4 linked regions of the Homo sapiens genome follow. The protein of the gene in region 1 interacts with the protein of each later gene in a pairwise test. Each region holds a gene or a part of one and is shown in the gene's direction. Other genes may lie near its edges.

Region 1 (7,272 bases):
GCTCTGTTCCTGCTGGAGGCATTTCAGGGCTCAGTGGGCAGCTGGGGCAGAGCCCGTGAGACCACAGCCTTCCTGGTGAGCCCGGTCTCCGCCCCCTACCCCATCTCTGGGGAAGGCGCTGACCCCATCTCTTCTCCCACGCTGCTCCCTGGCTCTTTGCGCCTGATTACTTCTCATGAGAGGCACTCCTTGTTAATGTGCTACTGAGTGTCCAGATGGGCCTGCTGGGCTGAGCGGGCTTTGGATGTGAACCATTTCAGGAAGGGGAACCCCATCGTCCTGTTGGTTCTGTGATGGCAAATGGGTGAGCTCAGATAAGCAGTTCTTGGGAGGGGCATGGTGGGGGTGGAGTGCAGGGGGAGGGGTTTCTGTTTTATGCAACAGCCTCAGCTTCTGGGAAAGGGTCCATTGTGTAAGACCGGGGCTATGGCCTGTGCCCCGTGGCTCAGGGCAGCCAGCCCAGTGGTGGCAGGAACACTGGCAGGGCAGCCTGCTGTCGGCTTAGAGGGGATGGGCAGTGTGGAGGGCCTGGCAGAGCAAGAGGACTCATCCTTCCAAAGGGACTTTCTCTGGGAAGCCTGCTCCTCGGGCCACTGCGAACCCTCTCTACTCTCCGAAGGGAATTGTCCTTCCTGGCTTCCACTACTTCCACCCCTGAATGCACAGGCAGCCCGGCCCAAGTCTCCCACTAGGGATGCAGATGGATTCGGTGTGAAGGGCTGGCTGCTGTTGCCTCCGGCTCTTGAAAGTCAAGTTCAGGTGGTGCTGAGACTCCCTGGGGGCTGCAGCGCTGTGGTGAATGGGGAGCGTCTGCTGGGGTGAAGGTTTAGGTGCACATTGCAGAGGACGTGGCTGGTCTCTGGGATGCAGTCCCTCTGTGGAGGTGGCATGGGGAGGGACGGATGCATGACCTAAGGGGGGTATTTTCAGTGTCTGACATGATCGATACCACTCTGGACAAGGAGGCCAGGATGCAGAAAGCCTGTGTGCCTCGCTGATTGTCGGGGAGGATGTGGCTTGGACAAGAGCCTGGTTCCTCCGATGCCAGGGTTCTTGTTTCTTCCACTCAACATTGCTGTCCTGCAGTCCCTCCCTCCCTGCACCTCCTGCCTTCGCTTTCATTCGAGGTGTCCATGGCAAGTCTGGTCATTTCCCCCCATTTCCTCAGGAATAAAAGTGCAGCAGTGCCTGCTGTGGGGACAGCTGAGGGCAGTGAGGCCCTGGGGAGCTGCTGCAGGCAGCAGGTGGGCGGGACGCCAGCAGGCTGTCTAGCTGTTCCCATGATGGTCTCCTGTTCTCTGCAGAGGCGTGCAAAGACTCCAGAATTGGAGGCATGATGAAGACTCTGCTGCTGTTTGTGGGGCTGCTGCTGACCTGGGAGAGTGGGCAGGTCCTGGGGGACCAGACGGTCTCAGACAATGAGCTCCAGGGTGAGTAGACCAAGCATGATGTTCCTCTGGCCACAGGGTGATGAGGTCAGAGGGCAGGGTAGCTAATTCTGCTCAGTGCCTCTCTATCAGGCCCCAGTGTTACAGACCGTTTTTATCTTGTGCACTGGGTCTGGGTGCCTGTGTCTGGGCCCACTCTGAGCCTCAGCTCCGAGGCCCCTGGTTCAGGCTCTGCGTGCATCAGACTGCCGGCATTTGCAGGCATTTCCCAAGCACTTTCGGCTGTTGCATTTCATTCAGCTCTTCCCCTCCCAGGCCCCTTAGCCCAGCTCCCAGGCCTCCTCCACGAAGCTGTGTCTGGACCACCGGAGCTCTTATCCCTCTCCCCTTTGGAGTGCCCAGAGCTTATCCCTCCTGTGAGCTGACGGTTTCTGCAGGATCATTGTTAAAAACCCAGATCAGACATGGGTGTGAGTCTGTTTCACCTCTTCTCAGCTGGGTGACTTTGGGCCACTATCTTGATCTCATGACACTCCCCCCACCCCCCATTTTATTGAGATATAATTAACAAATAAAAATTGTGTATATTTAAGGTATATGACGTGATGTTTTGAAATGCACATACATTGAAATGATGACCACTTTTTATGGTGGGACGGTGGGAAGACTTAAAATCTACTTTCTTAGCAAATTTCCAGTTATGATATGGTGTTATTAACTATAAGCACCACCTGTATGTTAGACCTCCAGAACATACTCCTCCTACCTGATGAACACTTTGACCCTTTATCATATCACACTTCCCATGTCTCCCTCTGCGAAGTGGGCACGGCGGGGGGCTGGAGCATTATGTAAACTGCACATGAAGTGTTTGGCGCAGTGCTTGGCATGGGATAAACACCAGTGAAGTAGCACTTAGGTGACACAGTGTTTCGCTGCATTTGTCACCAGTGCTATACCTTACTCATTTACTCATCTTCTTATTCCTGTCGCCTGGCACTGCATTGGAACAAAGAAATACACATATCTGTTTAAACTGAACTCTAGAAAGATTTGTGTCCAAAATAACAATATTTTATATTTTGATGCTGCAAAGCTGACACTTCTGGGTTTTTTTTTTTCCTTGCCAAGTTTCTTCTGCACCCAGCTCATTCTCCAGGGGCACATGGCAGTGGCTGGGCATAACTCTGGGTGTGCCGGCTCCCATGGTCTGCATTTCTAAGCAGTAGGGTGCAGTCAGCAAGGAGCCTGTGATGGGAGCCTGTGCCAGGGCAAGGCTGGGGCCATGCTGCTGCCTGCTGGCAGGAGTGGGGGTCCCAGCCTTGACAGCCCCTGAACTGAACGGGCCTTTCTGGCCATCCAGCTCATTCCAGGGTCCTGAGGCCACCTCTTCCTCTCGCCTCATTCTGCCTCTTGCACTTCTCTTGCAGAAATGTCCAATCAGGGAAGTAAGTACGTCAATAAGGAAATTCAAAATGCTGTCAACGGGGTGAAACAGATAAAGACTCTCATAGAAAAAACAAACGAAGAGCGCAAGACACTGCTCAGCAACCTAGAAGAAGCCAAGAAGAAGAAAGAGGTCAGGAGGAGCCGCTACCGCCTCCCTGCCTTGACCATCCCACTGGAGGGGAGGGAGGGGGTCACTGCGCGGTGCCCTGCTGGGTTGCCATGGTGACCCGCAGTCCTCCCAGGCTGTGTCAGCTGATGCTGAGGCTGCAATTAAGAAGCAGGGAAGGTTCATTTGCTTCTGAAAGCATCAGGGAGTGAGATCTTGGATCTGGTTTTGTTATGAGCCTGGCCCAGGGCCTAATGCCCAGATTCATTTCAATAGATGTTTCTAAGCCCTGATCACATGCTAGTTCCAAGCAGGCTCTGGATGGGGTGGCGGCAGGGGCCCAGACAGGCGTGGCGTCCAACCTTCAGGAAGCTTATCTAATAGGGGTGATATGGTTAGGGTTAAGGCAGGCACACAGCACCCCACGTCTTGCTAGAGTTCTGGACTACTTCATAAAGAAACATCTTAAGCCCAGTAGTGGATATAGCAGGTCTAGCCTGTGCTTAATGATTCAACAAAACTAAAACACTATAATTCAATGAACAACTTATTTAAGAAATCAAGTCTCCTTAAGAGTATCCTACAAACCTCCTCTCACGGTCGCCCTACTTCAGATGCTAAGATGTAGCTACCTGCAAGCTTCATGATCCATCGTGCATGTTAAAAGCATTTCAAAGGCTCTGAGAAGTTCTGCCGTAAAGAAACCTGTGTAACTCCATGAAACCCAGAGTTTTCCAAACTGACCAGGGAATTCATTTTTGTTTTTGTTTTTTTTTCCTGGCCGCTTTGAGCACAGCTCCATAGGAGCCACTTCAGGGATTGCTGGCCTGGATGTGGCTCTACCTTTTTTTCAAGTTTCATGCCCTTTCTTGGCCTTAGTATCAGTTCTCACCATTCTATGAGAATCCTCAAATAGCTCCTGGGGAAGGGGCATGACTTGTTCTCACATTTTTGTGGTTATCACTGGAGTTTGACATTCAACAATTCTGGTTTTATAATAAAGCACATCACATACATTTGGAGAAAAGAGCCTGCTACTTCTTAGTTGAGGAGTAGGTGAGCCAGAAGGCAAGGAAGTAGGTAGCAGGGGTGGCGCTTGTGTCTTGGCTCAGTGGGAGGTGGGTTGTCCTTGCCCAGCAGGGGACAGGGGATGATGGAGCAGGACAAAGACCTCACCTAACTCTGGGGTGTGGATAGGCTATTTTTTTTTTTTTGAAGACTAACACACTCATTCATAGAGACTTTAATATAGAAAAGTAGAAAAGGAAAAGTTTTTCCATAATCCTTTTGCCCAAGGACAAGTCACTGTTAACATTTGATCTATTTTTCCTATTATTTTCTTCTATGCTTTTTTGACAGTGGCTATATTTAAAATTATGAATTTTTAACATATAATATTCAAAATGGACTATAAACATCCTTTGTAATGATGTACCATCTACCCTTTATATGAACCATAGTTTGTTTAATCTGTCTCTTTTAAGCATCTGGGTTGGTTCTGATTTTTTTTTTTTTGCCATAAGCTAATACTGTTTCAAATATTTTTAAGTATCTTTTTCTTTGTCAGGGGATTCCTTTGAGATAGAGTCTTTGTTTTGTTTTGTTTTGTTTTGTTTTGTTTTTTTGAGACAGAGTCTTGCTCTGTCACCCAGGCTGGAGTGCAGTGGTTTGATCTTGGTTCACTACAACCTCCGCCTCCCAGGTTCAAGCGATTCTCCTGCCTCAGCATCCCAAGTAGCTGGGAGTGCAGGTGTGCACCACCACACCAGCTAATTTTTGTATTTTTAGTAGAGATGGAGTTTCACCATGTTAGCCAGGCTGGTCTCAAACTCCTGACCCCAAGTAATATGCCTGCCTCGGCCTCCCAAAGTGCTGGGATTACAGGTGTCAGCTGCCGCACCTGGCCTGAGACAGATTCTTACAGAATTATTGGGTCAAGTGGCAAGGGCCCGTTAGAGAATTTTGATAGCTGGTGTGGCTTTGGTGCTGAATGCCTGCCATTCCCTTTGCACGCCAGGAGGCATGGTTGCAATAGAAAGGTAAGATTCAGGGAGTCTGCAGCCTGCTTTGGAAGATGAAATTTAAACACCAGAAGCAGAGAATAGGAAATGAGGCTTCAGTGAGAGGGTAGTCATTGAGTAGGTGATCAGAGAGAGAGGTGGTGTCCACATGGGTTCCAGGAGTTGGGAAGCTTCTAGGAGTTAGGGAACAGTTGGATCTTGAAGGATGAGTGGATTCTTTAAGCCAGGTGGGAAGGGGATTCCAGGTGGGCGAATGAGGGGAAGCTTGAACTGGAGCAAGGGTAGGCACTTGCATGCTGGGTGGCCAGCCTATGGGAAGGCCTGCCCTGGGGCAGAGGGCCTGGCACCCAGCAGCTCTTTGAGTGCATGAGCCTGTGGTCTCTGTGTGGCTCAGCCAGCCTTGTGTCTTCCTGTAGGATGCCCTAAATGAGACCAGGGAATCAGAGACAAAGCTGAAGGAGCTCCCAGGAGTGTGCAATGAGACCATGATGGCCCTCTGGGAAGAGTGTAAGCCCTGCCTGAAACAGACCTGCATGAAGTTCTACGCACGCGTCTGCAGAAGTGGCTCAGGCCTGGTTGGCCGCCAGGTGAAAAGGGGACACATGAGTGGCCAAGGCTCTGAGTGGGGAAGGAGGGGAGCCTAGTGAAATATGCTTCATTCCGCATGCCAGATGCAATTGATTAGCATTGGCTGGCTTGCCCAGAGTGCCATGCTCCATTGGTAATGTCTGGCATGAGTAGAGAGAGTGGAGTCATCAAAAGGATGTAGGCCAGGTATCTGCCTTCTCTTAGAAAACTCATGCAGCAGTGCTTAGCTGGATGACATAATAAACTGCTTCGTGGGATGGCAGAGCCCTGTGTCCACTTATGTGGAAGGATTTAAGAATTTTTTTTTTTTTTTGAGACAGGGTCTCACTCTGTCACCCAGGCTGGAGTACAGTGATGTGATCATGTTTCACTGCAGCTTCGACCTCCTGGGTTCAGGTGATCCTCCCACCTCAGCCTCCCAAGTAGCTGGGACTACAGGCACGTACCACCACACCCAGCTAATTTTTGTATTTTTTTTTTGTAAACATGGGGTTTGGCCATGTTGCCCAGGCTGGTCTCAAACTCCTAAGCTCAAGTAATCCTCCTACCTTGGCCTCCCAAATTGTTGGGATTATAGATGTGTGCCACTATGCCCAGCCAATGTAAGATTTTGTAGTATATTAGTGTTGCTCCTGTCCTCTGCTGCAGGGCTTTTTTGATTGGGACTCAGTGAATTGCTCCAATCCCTGAAGTCACATCAGTTGGCCCTTAGCCGAGCGGGGGTGGATATCATTGGTGGCCAAAGATGACAGTGAATGAACCTGAAATGTTGGGCCTTGTGACTTTTGGGGCCTCCCAGGTGTCTCAAAACTGTCCCCCATGGAGGGAGATAAAAGGAAAGAGCATGGACCTGACAGATGGGGTGCTGGGGGCTGGTCCCAGCTGGGCTGTTGGTCACTTGCTGTGTGACTGTTACAGCCATGGGCAGGGCCTGGCCTGGCTCACCAGGGGGTGGGAGGCCAGGAGGCCGTGGCCTTGGTGAGCTTCTCCTAACTGTGCCCATGCTGGCTGTCCCAGCTTGAGGAGTTCCTGAACCAGAGCTCGCCCTTCTACTTCTGGATGAATGGTGACCGCATCGACTCCCTGCTGGAGAACGACCGGCAGCAGACGCACATGCTGGATGTCATGCAGGACCACTTCAGCCGCGCGTCCAGCATCATAGACGAGCTCTTCCAGGACAGGTTCTTCACCCGGGAGCCCCAGGATACCTACCACTACCTGCCCTTCAGCCTGCCCCACCGGAGGCCTCACTTCTTCTTTCCCAAGTCCCGCATCGTCCGCAGCTTGATGCCCTTCTCTCCGTACGAGCCCCTGAACTTCCACGCCATGTTCCAGCCCTTCCTTGAGATGATACACGAGGCTCAGCAGGCCATGGACATCCACTTCCATAGCCCGGCCTTCCAGCACCCGCCAACAGAATTCATACGAGGTGAGAAGGGGTGGAAGCTCATGGCCTTTTGAGCAACTCGTTAGATGCTGAGAACCATGCCGAGGGCTCAGCGGGTGTCATCTCGATTTTTCTCCAGCAATATCACAAGGGTGATATTATCCTTATTTAAAGAGGAAAAAAACTGAGCTGGGCATGGTGGCTCATGCCTGTGATGCCAGCACTTTGAGAGGCCAAGGCGGGAGGATCATTTGAGGCCAGGAGTTTGAGACCAGCCTGGCCAAGATAGTGAGACCCTGTCTCTACAAAAATAAAAACTTAAAAAATTAGCCG
Region 2 (5,074 bases), on another chromosome or scaffold:
AGCCCCGCCTCCGCGCCGCGCGCCGCCGCCGCCTGGTACCGCCCGGCCGGGAGAAGGTGAGATTCGCGCGGCCTCGCGCACACCCGCGGCTGGGAGCTCGGGACTGCGGTGACGGGAGGGGCAGTGTGGTGACCCACCCAGGATTTTTTTTTTTTTCCCGTGAAAGTCCTCAAGCCTGTCCTCTCCCTGGCCCGATCCTATTGCAGCGACAGAAAATCAGCAGCGGGCGGGTCTGTGTGGACCTGAGGGCCGCGTGGGGACCGAGGGGGGCTGTGGCCCAAAGAGTGGCAGTGAGTGGCGTCAAGGAACCCACACTCCGCATCTGCCACTCCTAGAGCCGGGACTAGCTCCCGATCCTAGCAGTTGCTCTCGAGATCATCCCGGGAGTTATTGGCGAGTTCTGGGCCTCTGGAGGTTTCCCTGTCAGCCTCCCCGGCCGCCGAGGGGGCGCGCGCCCAACAAGGGGGTCTCTAGCGGCCACCTGGGGACAGAAACAGTGACCCTGGGCGCGCACTTTGCCTCCCCGTTAGAGATGTCGCCCACGGGATCCTTAACGAGGCCTACCGCAAAGTGCTGGACCAGCTGTCCGCCGGGAAGCACCTGCAGTCGCTCGTGGCCCGGGGCGTGGGGTAAGAGTTTGTGGAAGGATTAACCTGCGCGCGCCGGGGTGGGTGCCTGTGCGGGGCGCGCGGGGCGGGCGGCGGTGGGTGCCCGTGGGGGCCAGGGTGAGTCTGCGCCCCTGGGTCTGGGGTGGGCATCCGCCACGGGTCGCAGTTGGAGATTTTGAAGTGGCACTTTAAATTTGCCCAGAGAGCTCTGGAAGAGGCAAAAAGGGAACGCGAGCCAGGGAGTTTGATCCGTTTTGAATGAAAAGAAAGAGAAACCAAACCAAACCTCTCAGTCATCCAAAACCTTCAGGCTTCCAGGGAGGTTTTGCTATAATTTTCTCTAAGCATGACTGTTTCTGGGGGAGGGGAAAGGGGTGGTTGTATTTACTGAAAATTCAAATCGAAATAATAAATGGCCAAATGTGGACACTTATGGACCCAAACAGTTTTGCTCACGCCAGAGAAACTGAGAGCACAGGGCTTGTGTGAAGCCTATCTCGGCAGAAGGCAACATTCTAATAAAGCCCGTGGGAAAACAGATTACATTTTCGCCATGAATAAGTCATGCAGTGAAAAATATTGCCTACAGCCTGTCGACTTATATTATTATCACGTTTTTCAACTCGGCGTGAGGAGGGAGAGGAGTGTTCATATTTGACTAGGAATTGCAGGATCGATGCAAACTCCAGGGCAGCAGCCAGACTGGCATATGTAGGGCTCTCCGGTTACTTTCTCTGTATGTCGCGGGTGAGAGGAACAGCGAGGACAATTTAGCGCAAACACACGAAGGGTCGGATCTCAAGGGGGCAGCGCTGGGAGAAAGGTTAGGCTTGAAGCGCGCGTCGCCTGCCCGGATCTTATCCCGGGCCCCCTCCGCAGGGTTTGGTGCCAGGAGATCCTGCGTGGGGAGGGGGGCATCGAGGGGCTGCCGTCTCGGCCCTCCCCACGGCTGCTTCCAGGCAGAGGCGGGCGACGCGGTGGGCAGTGCGAGCCCCGGGCCCTCCCCGAAGGCTCCCGCGTGGGGTGGGGCCCGCCTGCTCCCCGCGGCGATTGAACCTGTGTCTCCCGCCCCGCCACCCTCTTCCCGACCCCTTTGCTTGCAGTGGGAGCCTCGGCGGCGGCGCGGGGGACGACGCGGAGCCGCTCTCCAAGCGCCACTCGGACGGGATCTTCACGGACAGCTACAGCCGCTACCGGAAACAAATGGCTGTCAAGAAATACTTGGCGGCCGTCCTAGGGAAGAGGTATAAACAAAGGGTTAAAAACAAAGGACGCCGAATAGCTTATTTGTAGCGATGGGTTACCAGCTACCCTGTGTATACAGCCCTGACGCAATGAAAAGTCGTTTTCCAAACTGACTCAACAGTCATCGCTCGTGTGTTCTATCCAAACATGTATTTATGTAATGAAGTAAAGCCATTAAATGAATATTTTGATAATAATATTGTTTTTCTTTCTACAAAGCACTAGAGAATGCACAGATATACTTTGTGGACCAATTATTGATATATATTATAAATATATATAAAGAATATATATATATATATATATATATATATATATAAAGTATAGAGAGAAGTTCATACAAAGCGTGCACAAGGATTGAAAATTCGCCCGAGCTGTTTATGTTTTTATAAAAATAAATAGAAAAGTAGACAATCATTGTTTTGAATATTACTCCTATTTTTGTAAACTGGAATTAAAAGGATAGTATTTTTATCCATGACAGGCCTGAAGATATTACTACTTACCATTTGCTACTGTACATAAACAATGATGCCCTGCTCCAGGGAGATTTTGAGGTAAAGATATGGAGAATTGCTGAAGGGCATTCTTTCCCAGTGAGTCTCTGGGGCAGGCTGCTTCAATCCCAGCCTAACTCAACTGGGCTCTGTCCCCCTGGTTGGGTGGCAATTCCAATATTTCTGCTTTCTTTGATTCTCCTTTTATGTGTAGTTGTCTCTCTTCAGACTCTCAGCCCAGAAGAAAATTCTCCTGATAAAACAACAGCTCGATCCAAATTGTGCTTCTCCCCAGAATTCACGCCTCTCCCTAGGAGAAGAGTTGAGGAACTGTACAGAAAAGGGCGGCTTCGTTAGACCGCTCTCTTTTCTGTACTTCCTGAGTGGCCAGGGAATCTAATATCCCCAAATTAGGGCAATTGGAACAAAGTGAAGGACATAGAGGTATATTGGAAGAGGCAGAGCCTGAGGTGGTAGGAGGAGGACCCTGGAAATGGACTGGTTTGAGATTGCCCCAGGTCTGGGAAGCTGAGGGCAAATCCAGTCCCAATGGTCCTGACTTTGGGCGCTGGGTATTGGAAATGGATGCAAAGTACAATGTGTTTTTCTCCAGTGCTGTCCATGCTTCTCATCTTGTGAAATGGCCAGGATCCTCTCCTTTGAAACCTGCTCTGTAGGAGCTACCCTTTTCCTTTGTGGTTTTATGGAGACCTCTCCTTCCTACCCTCCTGCACTGTTTAAGTACTGTTTACCATTTTTCATTCACTTCTCTTAAACTTGTGAATGCTTCTCACTTTTTTTTTTTGTTTGATGCAGGCACTTATTGTAAATTTTAGAAACCCCTCTGTAGCCACTAGTAAGTAATTATGCACTAAATATGAACCCTTTGTTTCTTGTTTATTGAGTTTGTAGGTAAAATGTATTTTTCTACATTATTGCTTATTGCTTAGTAAAATTTATTTCATAAAACCAACCTTTGTCATATTAGAATGTGTAGTGTTCACATGTTGCTCAGTTTTGCTAACTGATAAATCATTTAATCCTCTTCTTCATATGTATGAGTACTATCTTATATCTGTGGTCAAGAGTGAGGTAAGCAAGCTCCAACAGACCCTGAGAACCTACGCTTGTATCCTTTCTTTGGCTAAAGAAAGCATGTCTGTTTCCTGTCAATTCTTTGAACATACAGAGTAATCTTTATAAACAAAAGAACCTTCACCCAGCAATCAGATCGAGCAGCAACAGACAAACCAGCCAGCCAATCTCCCAAATTTCAGGCACAAGTTTATTTATTTATTTTTTTATGTTTTGAAAAAAGAAGATGAAGAAGAAGAAAAAAAAAAGAACAAGGAAAGATTAAACGTTAGCTTGTAAAGTTTAAAGGACCTTTCCTTTTCCTTTACGGATTTGATCAGTATGAAGTCATAAATCAAAGAAAACAGAATTGGATTTGCATTCCCAGGCGGGATGGATGCTGCCAGGAGATCACATTGCAAATAGTGAAAACAGAGGCATTCGGTCTATGCCTGAGTCCTGTGTATAGGATCAATCTTCCTTTAATTCCGCAGTCTCCTCAGGCAATGTGACACGGGATGCAGTTTGCAGCTTTAGTGCCTTTCTTCGCCTTTTAAATTGCCACGAATCACAGATGGCTATTTAGTGGCCCTACAATGCTGCAACACATCAGCTTGCATTTTAGTCTTAATTATTTGTTTCTTGGATAATGGGCAGAGTTTTCTGTATTTGTATCAGCTGTTAGTGGTGAAATAGGGCTCTAGTTAACCTTTTATTTATGAAGTCTAATTTAGTGTTCCCGTGGCTAGTTGCAAGCATTTTACAGTGATCACCCAGTTTAATCTTTTGTATACTTTTTAGAAATGCCAAGAGCCTTACTAAACTGAAGCAGATTTATGATATAGTGATAATTTAGGTAGATGTTAGTCTTGAAGCTCTTATTTTGTGTGCAACTGATTATAAAAACACCTTAACCAAGTATTATTACACACATGATATCTATAACTAGGACTTTGATAACTGTTATATAAAGTGTGTAAAATTTGTATGAATAAATTTTTGTAAACAATGCAACTTGGTCTAATGTTTGGGAAAAAAGACATTCAGGAAATAATTACTTTAAAATCTCTTAAAGTATTATATTTCTTTAGCAACCATAAGATTTTTTTACGTCTGGAATATATATCTATCTAAGCACCCTTGTATTTTCATGAACTGCACTTTAATAATTGATGGGCAACTGGATTCTGCTAAAAATTTAAAGTAGCTACTCAGATGGAGATGCCTAAGAAGGTTTTAAGCTCATAAACAGGCATGATGTTGCAACATTATAAGACACACAATTTAGATTAATTTCCATCCCCTAGTGTGTATATACTTTGCTCAATATTCAGAAAGTTACTAGGTAGTAGTGGGAGACAATGCTGGAGCATTAGTTACACATCTAAAATAGCAATCTAACATTGTTCTTTTATTTTTTATTTTAGTGGCCAGGTCTCACTATGTTGCCCAGGCTGGTCTTGCTCAAGCGATCCTCCCACCTCAGCCTCCCAAAGTGCTGGGATTACAGGCGTGAGCCACCACACCCAGCCTAAAATAGGGATCTAACATTGTTCTTATACAAGTAACTCTGCAGACTAAACTTGTCTTGATAAAATTTTGTATAAAATGATCTAAATAATCAGTTTTTGGAGGTTTTAAAATGTGTTT
Region 3 (3,047 bases), on another chromosome or scaffold:
ACTGCACTGGGCAACAGATTAAGACTCTGTCACAAAAAAAAAAGCGTTAAGTTAAGGAGCGTGAATAAAAATAATACATTTCATATTCTAAGACAATATCATCTACAACTTTATTCCAATATAAATTACTAAAACTTTACCATATAAGTAGTAGAAAGCCTGAATAGATAAAAGCTATGGAAGAAAAATTAAAGATAGTGATAGATTTATCACCAAGCTCAGATGGTTCTGCAAACAAATTCTAAGAAACCGTCAGGGAACAGATCATTACTGCGTTGACACAGAAGGCAAACCTCTCAACTTGGTGTATAAGGCTAGTTAACATTGTTACTAAAACAGGCAAAGAATGGCCCCCAAAATAACTCTAAACCAGTATCACCTACAAATACAAAAACTCTATATAAAATATTAGCAAGTGAGTACAAGAGTATAAGGAACTCTATTAATGTAATTCACTGTGCTAGGTTAAGATAAAACCATAACTCTTCAGATATCATAGCTCTTTAGATAGAAAAATGTAAAAGTATTTGATAAAAATTCAACAACATTCCTGACTAAAACAAATTAAAATTGTAAAACCCCTGGAAAGCCAGGAGTAAAACATGTTCTCCATAATCTATAGCAAACATCATAGTTGCTGATAAACCATTAGAAGCATTTCCTTCAAAGTTAGGAATAAAACAAGAATTGCTACTATTGCTACTATTATTTAATCCCATATTGGAGGTTTTAGCCAACACACTATGGCAAGAAGAGGAAATGAGAAAGGTTAATGCTGCAAAAGAAGAAATAAATAAAGCTACCATTGCTGATATAATTATCTATCCAAAAAAAGTAGAAATCCATGATTAAAAGCTATTTGAACTGATAAAAGTTCAGAAAATTGGAATTGTTTCAATATACTAAAATCAATTAGTTTTCTGCACATCAGTGGGGATATATTAGATGTAATGAAAATGAAGGGTCCATTCACAATAGAAGCTATAAAGTATTTGAGAATAAATCTAACAAGATCTACATAAAGAAAAAAGTAAACTGCTTAAAAGTAATTTAAGTTCACCATTTGCAAATTGAACTAAAGAAAAATCTAAAGAAGAACTAGTGAAAATTGCTTGCAATCTTACCACTGAAAAGAAACCTCTGTTAAAATGTATCAGTATTTTAAAACTGTGTTTTGTCCTTTGGAAATATGCCATATTAAGCAAACATAGCATAAGCAAATTAAGCAAAAAGACAAACCTTTTTTTAAAAGCATATTTGTGAAAAAAGCATATTTGAAGCTATGATAAGAAACTGAGTAGAAGCTATAAAACGTAGATTCATCAGGAAGGAGCAGAAGTTGAAAAGGAGATTTCTGGCTGGGCACAGTGGCTCATGCCTGTAATCCCAGCACTTTGGGAGGCCAAGGCGGGTGGATCACTTGAGGTCAGGAGTTTGAGACAAGCCTGGCCAACATGGTGAAACCCTATCTCTACTAAAAATACAAAAATTAGAAAGGCGTGGTGGTGAGCACCTATCATCCCAGCTACTCAGGAGGCTGAGGCAGGAGAATAGCTTGATCCCGGGAGGCATAGGTTGTAGTGAGCCGACGTCATGCCACTGCACTCCAGCCTGGATGACAGAGCAAGACTCCATCTCAAAAAAAAAAAAAAAGAAAAGAAAAGAAAAGGAGATTTCTGAGTAGAAACACGTTAGCAGAGGAAACTTCATTTGGGGAACAGGATTGTTTTGATGCCATGCTCCCTCAGCTGACCACACAGATTACATCCTGGCCAGAAAAAGGCCCTGCAAAGAGCTCTGATCATTTTGGTTCTGATTCCATCCTTAGTTCTTACCCATTATCTGCTTACCCTTCCTCCCCACCTATTTAAGATACAAAGCAAAACAAACCAAAAATACAGATGAGTTGCTTGGTAGAGCTGCCTAGGCCTCCAAGGCGGGGCCCAGAGGATTTTTTGACTGAACCCCCTGTTGTGTTTTCCATATGTGCTTCCCCAGACCGCCCAGGTTTGCTGAATGTGAAGCCCATTGAAGACATTCAAGACAACCTGCTACAAGCCCTGGAGCTCCAGCTGAAGCTGAACCACCCTGAGTCCTCACAGCTGTTTGCCAAGCTGCTCCAGAAAATGACAGACCTCAGACAGATTGTCACGGAACACGTGCAGCTACTGCAGGTGATCAAGAAGACGGAGACAGACATGAGTCTTCACCCGCTCCTGCAGGAGATCTACAAGGACTTGTACTAGCAGAGAGTCCTGAGCCACTGCCAACATTTCCCTTCTTCCAGTTGCACTATTCTGAGGGAAAATCTGACACCTAAGAAATTTACTGTGAAAAAGCATTTTAAAAAGAAAAGGTTTTAGAATATGATCTATTTTATGCATATTGTTTATAAAGACACATTTACAATTTACTTTTAATATTAAAAATTACCATATTATGAAATTGCTGATAGTATTTGAAGACTGAGTCTTGTGTGTTTCCCACCCTAGCCCCCAGGCTTTCTTTTTTACCCCTTTTCCTTCTCCCCTCCCTCCCTCCATCCCTCTCACTCTTCCTCCCTCCCTTCCCTCCTTTCCTTCTTCCTTTATTTTTCTTTTCTTTCTTAGACATTTTAAAATATGTGAGTGGAACTGCTGATACACTTTCATTCTCAGTAAATTAATTTTTTACTCAATTTACAACTTTTCGGAACTCTGCATCTGCTTTAACAATCAGAACTAAGAAGGGAAGGGGAACTTCAGAATCAGAAACTGCTCAGAGCATGTGTTTTGTAGCCTGGATGTGCTGATATGCAGCATATCCCTGGGATTACCCAGAATTCAGTCTTCTTCCACAATCCTAACCGAGATTTTCACGCACCACCAGCAGCCTACTCGTATACTACCTACTAATCAATGCCACTGCGCACCCACAGAGCCAGTGGCCAGCAACTGAGCACTGCTAGAAACTCTGGGGAACACAGAACTTTTTTAAGATTTGGTATCTGCGCCAGGCATGGTGTCTCAAGCCTTTAATCCACGCACGTTAGGAGGCCAAGGTGGATG
Region 4 (7,272 bases), on another chromosome or scaffold:
TTGCAGGGGGTTCTGGAAAGTCAAGTTCTCTGAATCTCAGTTGCCTTTAATATAAAAGGAAAGCTATAGTTTCGGGTCGGATTGATTCACATGGTTTTGGTCGGGAGTGAATGAAATTAATGTAAATTAAAACACATTATGAGTAGCAAAGTGCTATGCAATCTAAAAATAATAACATTTTAATCACTCTTATCATCATATGTGCCAGGCACTGTTCTAAGCTGTCTACAAATAGTAACTCATTTAGTTGAATGCTCACAACCACCTTATGAGAGAGCTACTGTTAATATCACCACTTTACTGATGGGGAAACTGAGGCACAGAGAGGTTAAGTAACTTGTGGAAGGTCACACAACCAGCAAGTGGTACAATCAGGGTTTGAACCAGTCAATGAGGAGTCAGCATTTGTTATTGTTCCTATTCCTATAGCATAGCTGGGAAGGGAATGCAATGCTGGTTTGGAGAACACATCAAGCAGGCCTCCTGTCATCCACTGAGTGAGATGAGATGATGGCCATACATTGCGGCACAGCCAGCTATCCATGGTCTGCAGCAACAGATCAGTCTTGCAGGGACATGGATAGCTCCGCTAGTGAACATTCACATGTTCAACGAATAGCTAGAGTAAATAGTTGGATCTCATTTAGAGGCATGCTCTGGCATTCCTCTTTCACGTCATTTGCTTTCCAGGCCCACTCCAGGATGAGAGTACTGAGGTGCCATAAAAGACCAACAGGCAAGATGTTGGAGGGTTCAGGAGCTGCCAAGGTTGTGTTCATGCTGACCTGTTGGCATAGCGTACAGCAGTGCCAGCTGCTCTGCTAAACCGAGGAGCTGAGATGCTGTGTTGATTTCTACATGTTCCAGGCAAATACTTCCTGAGGATTGTCAGGATTTACATAATGGATTGGCCCTGGGACCACTGAGCCAGCATCTATCTTTGACAGGTGTACTGAGAGATGACCTTTAAACCTAGGGATGTTCTCCAGATGCAGTTCCAGCTGGGCCAGTAAGATCTGCATGTTTATGGTGCTGTTTTTTCTTTTCTTCCCAGGCAGCCGGGATTGCTTACCACCTGCAGCGTGCTTTCGGAGGCGGCGGCTGGCACGGAGGCCGGGCTACATGAGAAGCTCGACAGGGCCTGGGATCGGGTTCCTTTCCCCAGCAGTGGGCACACTGTTCCGGTTCCCAGGAGGGGTGTCTGGCGAGGAGTCCCACCACTCGGAGTCCAGGGCCAGACAGTGTGGCCTTGACTCGAGAGGCCTCTTGGTCCGGAGCCCTGTTTCCAAGAGTGCAGCAGCCCCTACTGTGACCTCTGTGAGAGGAACCTCGGCGCACTTTGGGATTCAGCTCAGAGGTGGCACCAGATTGCCTGACAGGCTTAGCTGGCCGTGTGGCCCTGGGAGTGCTGGGTGGCAGCAAGAGTTTGCAGCCATGGATAGTTCTGAGACCCTGGACGCCAGCTGGGAGGCAGCCTGCAGCGATGGAGCAAGGCGTGTCCGGGCAGCAGGCTCTCTGCCATCAGCAGAGTTGAGTAGCAACAGCTGCAGCCCTGGCTGTGGCCCTGAGGTCCCCCCAACCCCTCCTGGCTCTCACAGTGCCTTTACCTCAAGCTTTAGCTTTATTCGGCTCTCGCTTGGCTCTGCCGGGGAACGTGGAGAAGCAGAAGGCTGCCCACCATCCAGAGAGGCTGAGTCCCATTGCCAGAGCCCCCAGGAGATGGGAGCCAAAGCTGCCAGCTTGGACGGGCCTCACGAGGACCCGCGATGTCTCTCTCGGCCCTTCAGTCTCTTGGCTACACGGGTCTCTGCAGACTTGGCCCAGGCCGCAAGGAACAGCTCCAGGCCAGAGCGTGACATGCATTCTTTACCAGACATGGACCCTGGCTCCTCCAGTTCTCTGGATCCCTCACTGGCTGGCTGTGGTGGTGATGGGAGCAGCGGCTCAGGGGATGCCCACTCTTGGGACACCCTGCTCAGGAAATGGGAGCCAGTGCTGCGGGACTGCCTGCTGAGAAACCGGAGGCAGATGGAGGTCAGTGTCTCTTCCACCTCTGTGGCCCGAGATTGTCGTGAGCTCAGATTAGCACTGGGCAGACGGCAGGAAACGAGGGGTTCTGGGCTCAACTGACTTCCTCCTGGAAGCTGCAGCAGCTCCTTTTGGAGCCGGCTGCACAGGATGTTGCTGCACTTCTGTCTCTTTGAATTGGACACAGATCTACTCTCCTTTTTGTCTTCTCTGTCACTTAGGTGCTCAGATTTGCTCTCCATTGGGCCGCAGGCTCCTCTGCAGGCCCCGGCTTAGGTGAGACGTGGTTCATGCAGCCCAGCTCTGCTTTGAGACAGGAAACTGGGGGCAGGGGAGATTGAGCTGGGTGATGTTTGGAAGGACTTGAGAGATACAAAAATGGGGATGCCCTCTATCAGGGCGATCCTGCTCTTCATCCGCTTCACTCATTCCCTTCCATCCTGCTGCAGTGGCTGCTGCCTTCCACAGGGTCGGGAGACTTCGCTTCTGGTCATTGAACCTCTTTGGCTCTCAGTTTCCGTATTTAGAGATAACACCAACTCATAGGATTGTTCTAAGGCTCAAATGAGAATGTAGCTGCTTTGGAAATAAGTACAAACTGGAGACATCTAAGGCCCAGCCTTATGATGATGCTGTCCATCCAGTTATCTGAGAGGTGGGTATAGCCGGAAGTAGGTAGGGTTCCTCTACCCACAAAAGTTCCCAGAGAAGCCCAGGTAGAGATGCTCTGTGGCTCATCTGTTGCCAGACTGTATTTTAATCCTGGTGTGTGTGTGCATATGTGTTTGTGTGTGTATGTGTGTGCATGTAGGTGTGCCTGTGTGTGCGTGTGTGTGTGTGCATGTTTGTGCTGTGTGTTCATGTGTGTGTGTGCATGCATGTGCGAGTGTATTTGTGTGTGTGCACTCATGTGTTTCTGCGTGTGGTGTGTGGATATGTTCATGTGGGTAGGGAAGTGGAGCACCCACTCATCAGGCATTTGGGAGGAGTAATCTGCAGAAGTTCATGCTCATTCCCCGAAAGAGCATCTCCCATCTGTTCTTTATCTATAGTCTGATGTTTCTAGCCCTGTCCCTGTTTGCCCTGTTTCAGCCCTCAGGGACCTCAGCCCAGCCCTCTGATTTATTATGCAGAGAGGGAGTGAGGTCAGAGCACAGATGCAGGCTTGTATTCTGGGTGATGTGTGGAGTCTTCCAGTTAGTCATTGCCTAAACCAGTGCCCCTTGTCTTTCCCCGAAACCCGTTCTGAAGGGCCTCCAATATTGGTTGATTTGAATGCATAGAATCTATCCAGTTTCTTAGGCCAGAAACCACAACCATCTTCCACACCTCCCTCTCCCTTGTTCCACATCTGGCTGGCCTCCAAGCCCTCTCAGTCCTACTGCTAATCTGTCTCTCATCACCATGGCCGCTGCCCTGGCTCAGATCCTTGTTATCTTTCACCTGGGTTTTGCAAGAGGGTCTACCTTCCTGCGGTGTTTCTCTTCTCCAGTTAATTAAACTAAATGTGATCATATGTGCAAAGTGCTTCAGACAGGGCCTGGCATCTAGCAAGTACCCAGAAATTAACCATTGTCATCATTAGAGAAATAGCTCCAATTTAGAGAGTTTGAGTCAAAAGCAAATGAAGCTCTCCCTTCTGTCCATAGCTCAAATTAAATTCCTATCTTATCTCAAATGGTAGAATCTGGACACACTTTTTCTTTAGTGTAAGTATTGTTGTCTATGGCAGTCCCACAGCTGGGCAGGGAAAAACATGACACTCTCTTCAATTACACTCATGTACTGCATAATGACATTTTGGCCAATGACGGATCACATATATGATGTGACAGTGGTCCTGTGAGATTATCGTACTGTGTTTTTGTTGTACCCTTTCTATGTTCAGATATGTTTAGATACAACAATACCTTACCATTGTGTGACACTTGTCTGCAGTATTCAGTACAGTCACATGCTGCACAGGTTTGTAGCCAAGGAGCAATAGACTATTCCATCTAGCCTAGGTGTGTAATGGGCTACACCATCCAGATTTGTGTAAGCACACTCTACGATGTTCACACAATGATGAAGTCACCTAATAATGCATTTCTCAGAATGCATCCCTGTCATTAAGTAACGCTAGGCTGTACTTGAGTATCTGTTGTGTGACAGCGGAATTAACAGAGTAGTGGGAATGACAGAAATAACACAGTCCAGGGCATAGGACTTACAGGAAGGCAGAGTTTGCCTCAATAGGAGGAAGAACCTCTTGACAGTGGGAATTGTCTGTGATGAGGTGGGCTGGTCAGGGACTTGTTTTCCCATGGTGCTTACACAGAGGCCCCAGACTGCTCACTGGGGTTGCGGCTGAGGCCTTCGGGACAGGGCAGAAGGTCGGTGAAGGATCTCCAAAAAGATCCTTTGAAAGAGTAGGATTTCTAGTGTTTGGGGGCCTTATTGATATTATATTTTAATTCCTTAACCTCCTCTCGCTTCTACTTAAGTAAAAATGAGAATCTCAGGAATTTAAGTTTCAGCTTCTTCTAAAAGATGGTTGATCCTCAGTGTTTGTGGATTCTATATGTGTGAATTCGTCTACTTGCTAAAATTTGTTGTTAACTCCAAAATCAGTACTCACAGCACTTTTATGGTCATTTTTCATTTTTATTTTATTTTTTAAGAGACGGGGTCTCTGTCTTCCAGGCTGGGGTGCAGTGGTGTGATCATAACTCACTGCAACCTTGAACTCCTGGGCTCAAGCGATTCTCTTGCCTCAGCCTCCCTAGTGGCTGGGACTACAGGCGCATGCCACCATGCCTGGCTAATTTTTTTTTTTTTTTTTTTTTGGGTAGAGATGAGGGTCTTGCCACGTTGCCCAAACTGGTCTTGAACTCTTGGCCTCAAATGATCCTCCTGCCTCAGCCTCCAAGGTACTGGGATTACAGGCATGAGCCACCATGCCTGGTGGTAATTTTGAACCTGCACAGAGTGGCAAAATATTTGGGTCACCTGATGTACACGCTTTCTACTTAGGTCAAACAAGTTCAGACCAGATGACATTCTACCTTCTCTCTCATACTACAAACTAGTATCCTTTTTGTGGTCTATTTAATGCCATCTTTTTTTACATTTTTGTGCTCTTTATTGGTGAGTTAACCATTGCAAAAGCTCCCTAAGCATAGTGCTAATGTCATCTAGTGCTCCTAAGCATGAGAAGGCTGTGATGGGCCTGATGGAGAAGATACAGGTGCTCCAGAAACTTTATTCAGGCATGAGTTAGAGTGCTGTTGGCCAGAGTACAATGCTTATGGATCAATAATACATATTAAATAAGATGTTTTTAAACAGAAACACACATAGAACAAGGTCATGTGTTGACCGATGGAGGAAGGTGTTGTGACCAGGGGTTCACAGGAACCTACCCTGTATTTCTCTTAGGAGCAATGCTTCATTATTCCCTAATTCAGTATTCACAGAAACTTTATAGAACATAACTACAGTACTGTGAATAAGGAGAATCGACTGTGAATATTTTATGCTGTTTAGAAATCGCTGCTTAGCGAGATTTCCAGGGGTTGCATGGGACTGAGAAGATGGTAATAAAGGTAGTTGGTGACCAGGCATGCAGAGGAGGGGAAGTGGAGTGGGCCCTGCAAGGTAGGCTCCACCTAAGGCCATGGAAACTGGTGAAAAATGAAGGACTCTGCCTGTAGAGTATTATAGGACGTTCCACAGGCAGGGTTGTGGCACAGTGCAAGACATGGCCACTGGGGCTGTGCCTCCAGCAAAGACGGGTATTCAGACATATCTCAGGGCAGTCCATTCAGGGCCTTATAGAGATCACTGGACGAGGTGGGCATCGTGGGGTGGGCTTTGGCTGTAAATGAATTTTTTTCCTGACCTTGTTTCCTGCATTTCTTCAGCTTCTGTTCTAATAAATGTTTAATGATACCATCATTTGGGTGTGGCGATGGTAATGCTATAGCTTTATGTGGCCCTCAAACCATTCACACAGCCTTTCTTCTGTCCCTAATATATAGGACTAAGTTACTGGTAAACTTTGCAGTTGTAATATAGAACAATTCAAAGACAAAGGGGTTAATATGATTATTCATTCATTCTTTCATTCATTCAGAAAGCATTTATCAATGACAACGAGTACAATGCCTTATCCTAGGCTTTGGAGATTGTATTAGGACAGGCTAGTAACAGGCACTACGTTAGAGGCTCAACACAACAAAATTGTGTTTTTTGCGTATGCTTCATGTTCCACAGAGATTTTTGGGGGGCAAGAACCCAGCCTGCACCATCTGAACATATGATCCCCTTAGTCACAGACTTGAGGAAGAGAATGTTAGGGAGTCCTACAAGAGCGATCAAATGCTTCAGCGTAGAGGTAACCCCATCACTGCCACTCATACCCTGTTCAGCAGAACAAGGAGAGAGGCACTTGTACTCTTTCCATGTGCCCAAAGCAGTGGAAAATCAAGTCAGTGTAAGTACTAGCATCCTATACATGGATGCAAAATAGTTCTTGCCCCCCAGATGCTCAAGGTTGAATGATGTGCACAGATAAAACCAAACAAAGGAAAATGATGGCTATAACCTGGTGCAATAAGTACTCCATTCTTCCAGTGGGTCAGAAAAAAAAACCCAAAAAACAAAAAACAAAACAAACCTTGGCATCATCCTGGTGCATTTTCCTCAGACCCCACCTGTGATGTATTAGCAAATCCTGTTGGCTCTATATTTAACCAGCGGTCTTCTGAATATAACCGGAATCAGATCACATCTCACCATCTTCACCATTGCCACCATCCTCACTATCATCCAAGCTCCTGTCATCTCCTTCCTGAATGTTCCCATAGCCTCTTACCTGGCCTCCCTTCTTCTGCTCTTACTAACAGCAGCCAGAGTGAAACTGTTTAAAACATAAGTCAGATCATGTGCTCCTCTGCCCCAAACTCTCCAGTGGCGCCCCATGAACTTCAGAGTAAAATCAGAACTTTTAAATGGTCTTCATGTCTCTTCTTGACACAGTCCTCATTACCTGTGTGACCTCATTCTCTACAGTTTTCCCTTACATCAATCTGCCCCAGATCCAGTGGCATTCTTGCTCCCTCTTGCTTTTCATTTCACTTTCACTTCTTGCTTTCTTACCAGAAACACTTCTGCCTGAGCCTTTGTACTGGCTCTTCCCTCTGTGGGAATATTTTTCTCCCAGACAGCCTCGTGGTTCACTCCCTTACCACTTTTAAATCT

The links.
Region 2: the proteins of CLU (region 1) and ADCYAP1 interact in binary tests that used the Homo sapiens proteins (3 or more experiments, as listed by UniProt).
Region 3: the proteins of CLU (region 1) and PPARG interact in binary tests that used the Homo sapiens proteins (3 or more experiments, as listed by UniProt).
Region 4: the proteins of CLU (region 1) and DISC1 interact in binary tests that used the Homo sapiens proteins (3 or more experiments, as listed by UniProt).

Annotation. Positions count from the first base shown.
Region 1 is NC_000008.11:27,604,633-27,611,904, reverse strand, and holds part of CLU (clusterin isoform 1 preproprotein), read left to right. Parts: intron 1-153; exon of another isoform or gene 154-304; intron 305-533; exon of another isoform or gene 534-759; intron 760-1,153; exon of another isoform or gene 1,154-1,304; 5' UTR 1,305-1,333; coding exon 1,334-1,430; intron 1,431-2,818; coding exon 2,819-2,967; intron 2,968-5,380; coding exon 5,381-5,551; intron 5,552-6,569; coding exon 6,570-6,981; intron 6,982-7,272.
Region 2 is NC_000018.10:907,735-912,808, forward strand, and holds the end of ADCYAP1 (pituitary adenylate cyclase-activating polypeptide preproprotein), read left to right. Parts: coding exon 1-56; intron 57-530; coding exon 531-629; intron 630-810; coding exon of another isoform or gene 811-856; exon of another isoform or gene 857-1,698; intron 1,699-1,711; coding exon 1,712-1,901; 3' UTR 1,902-4,438; downstream 4,439-5,074. UniProt on the Homo sapiens protein: PACAP is a neuropeptide involved in diverse array of physiological processes through activating the PACAP subfamily of class B1 G protein-coupled receptors: VIP receptor 1 (VIPR1), VIP receptor 2 (VIPR2), and PACAP type I receptor (ADCYAP1R1).
Region 3 is NC_000003.12:12,431,900-12,434,946, forward strand, and holds the end of PPARG (peroxisome proliferator-activated receptor gamma), read left to right. Parts: intron 1-1,998; coding exon 1,999-2,246; 3' UTR 2,247-2,445; downstream 2,446-3,047. UniProt on the Homo sapiens protein: Nuclear receptor that binds peroxisome proliferators such as hypolipidemic drugs and fatty acids.
Region 4 is NC_000001.11:231,692,772-231,700,043, forward strand, and holds part of DISC1 (disrupted in schizophrenia 1 protein), read left to right. Parts: intron 1-1,054; coding exon 1,055-2,034; intron 2,035-7,272. UniProt on the Homo sapiens protein: Involved in the regulation of multiple aspects of embryonic and adult neurogenesis. Required for neural progenitor proliferation in the ventrical/subventrical zone during embryonic brain development and in the adult dentate gyrus of the hippocampus.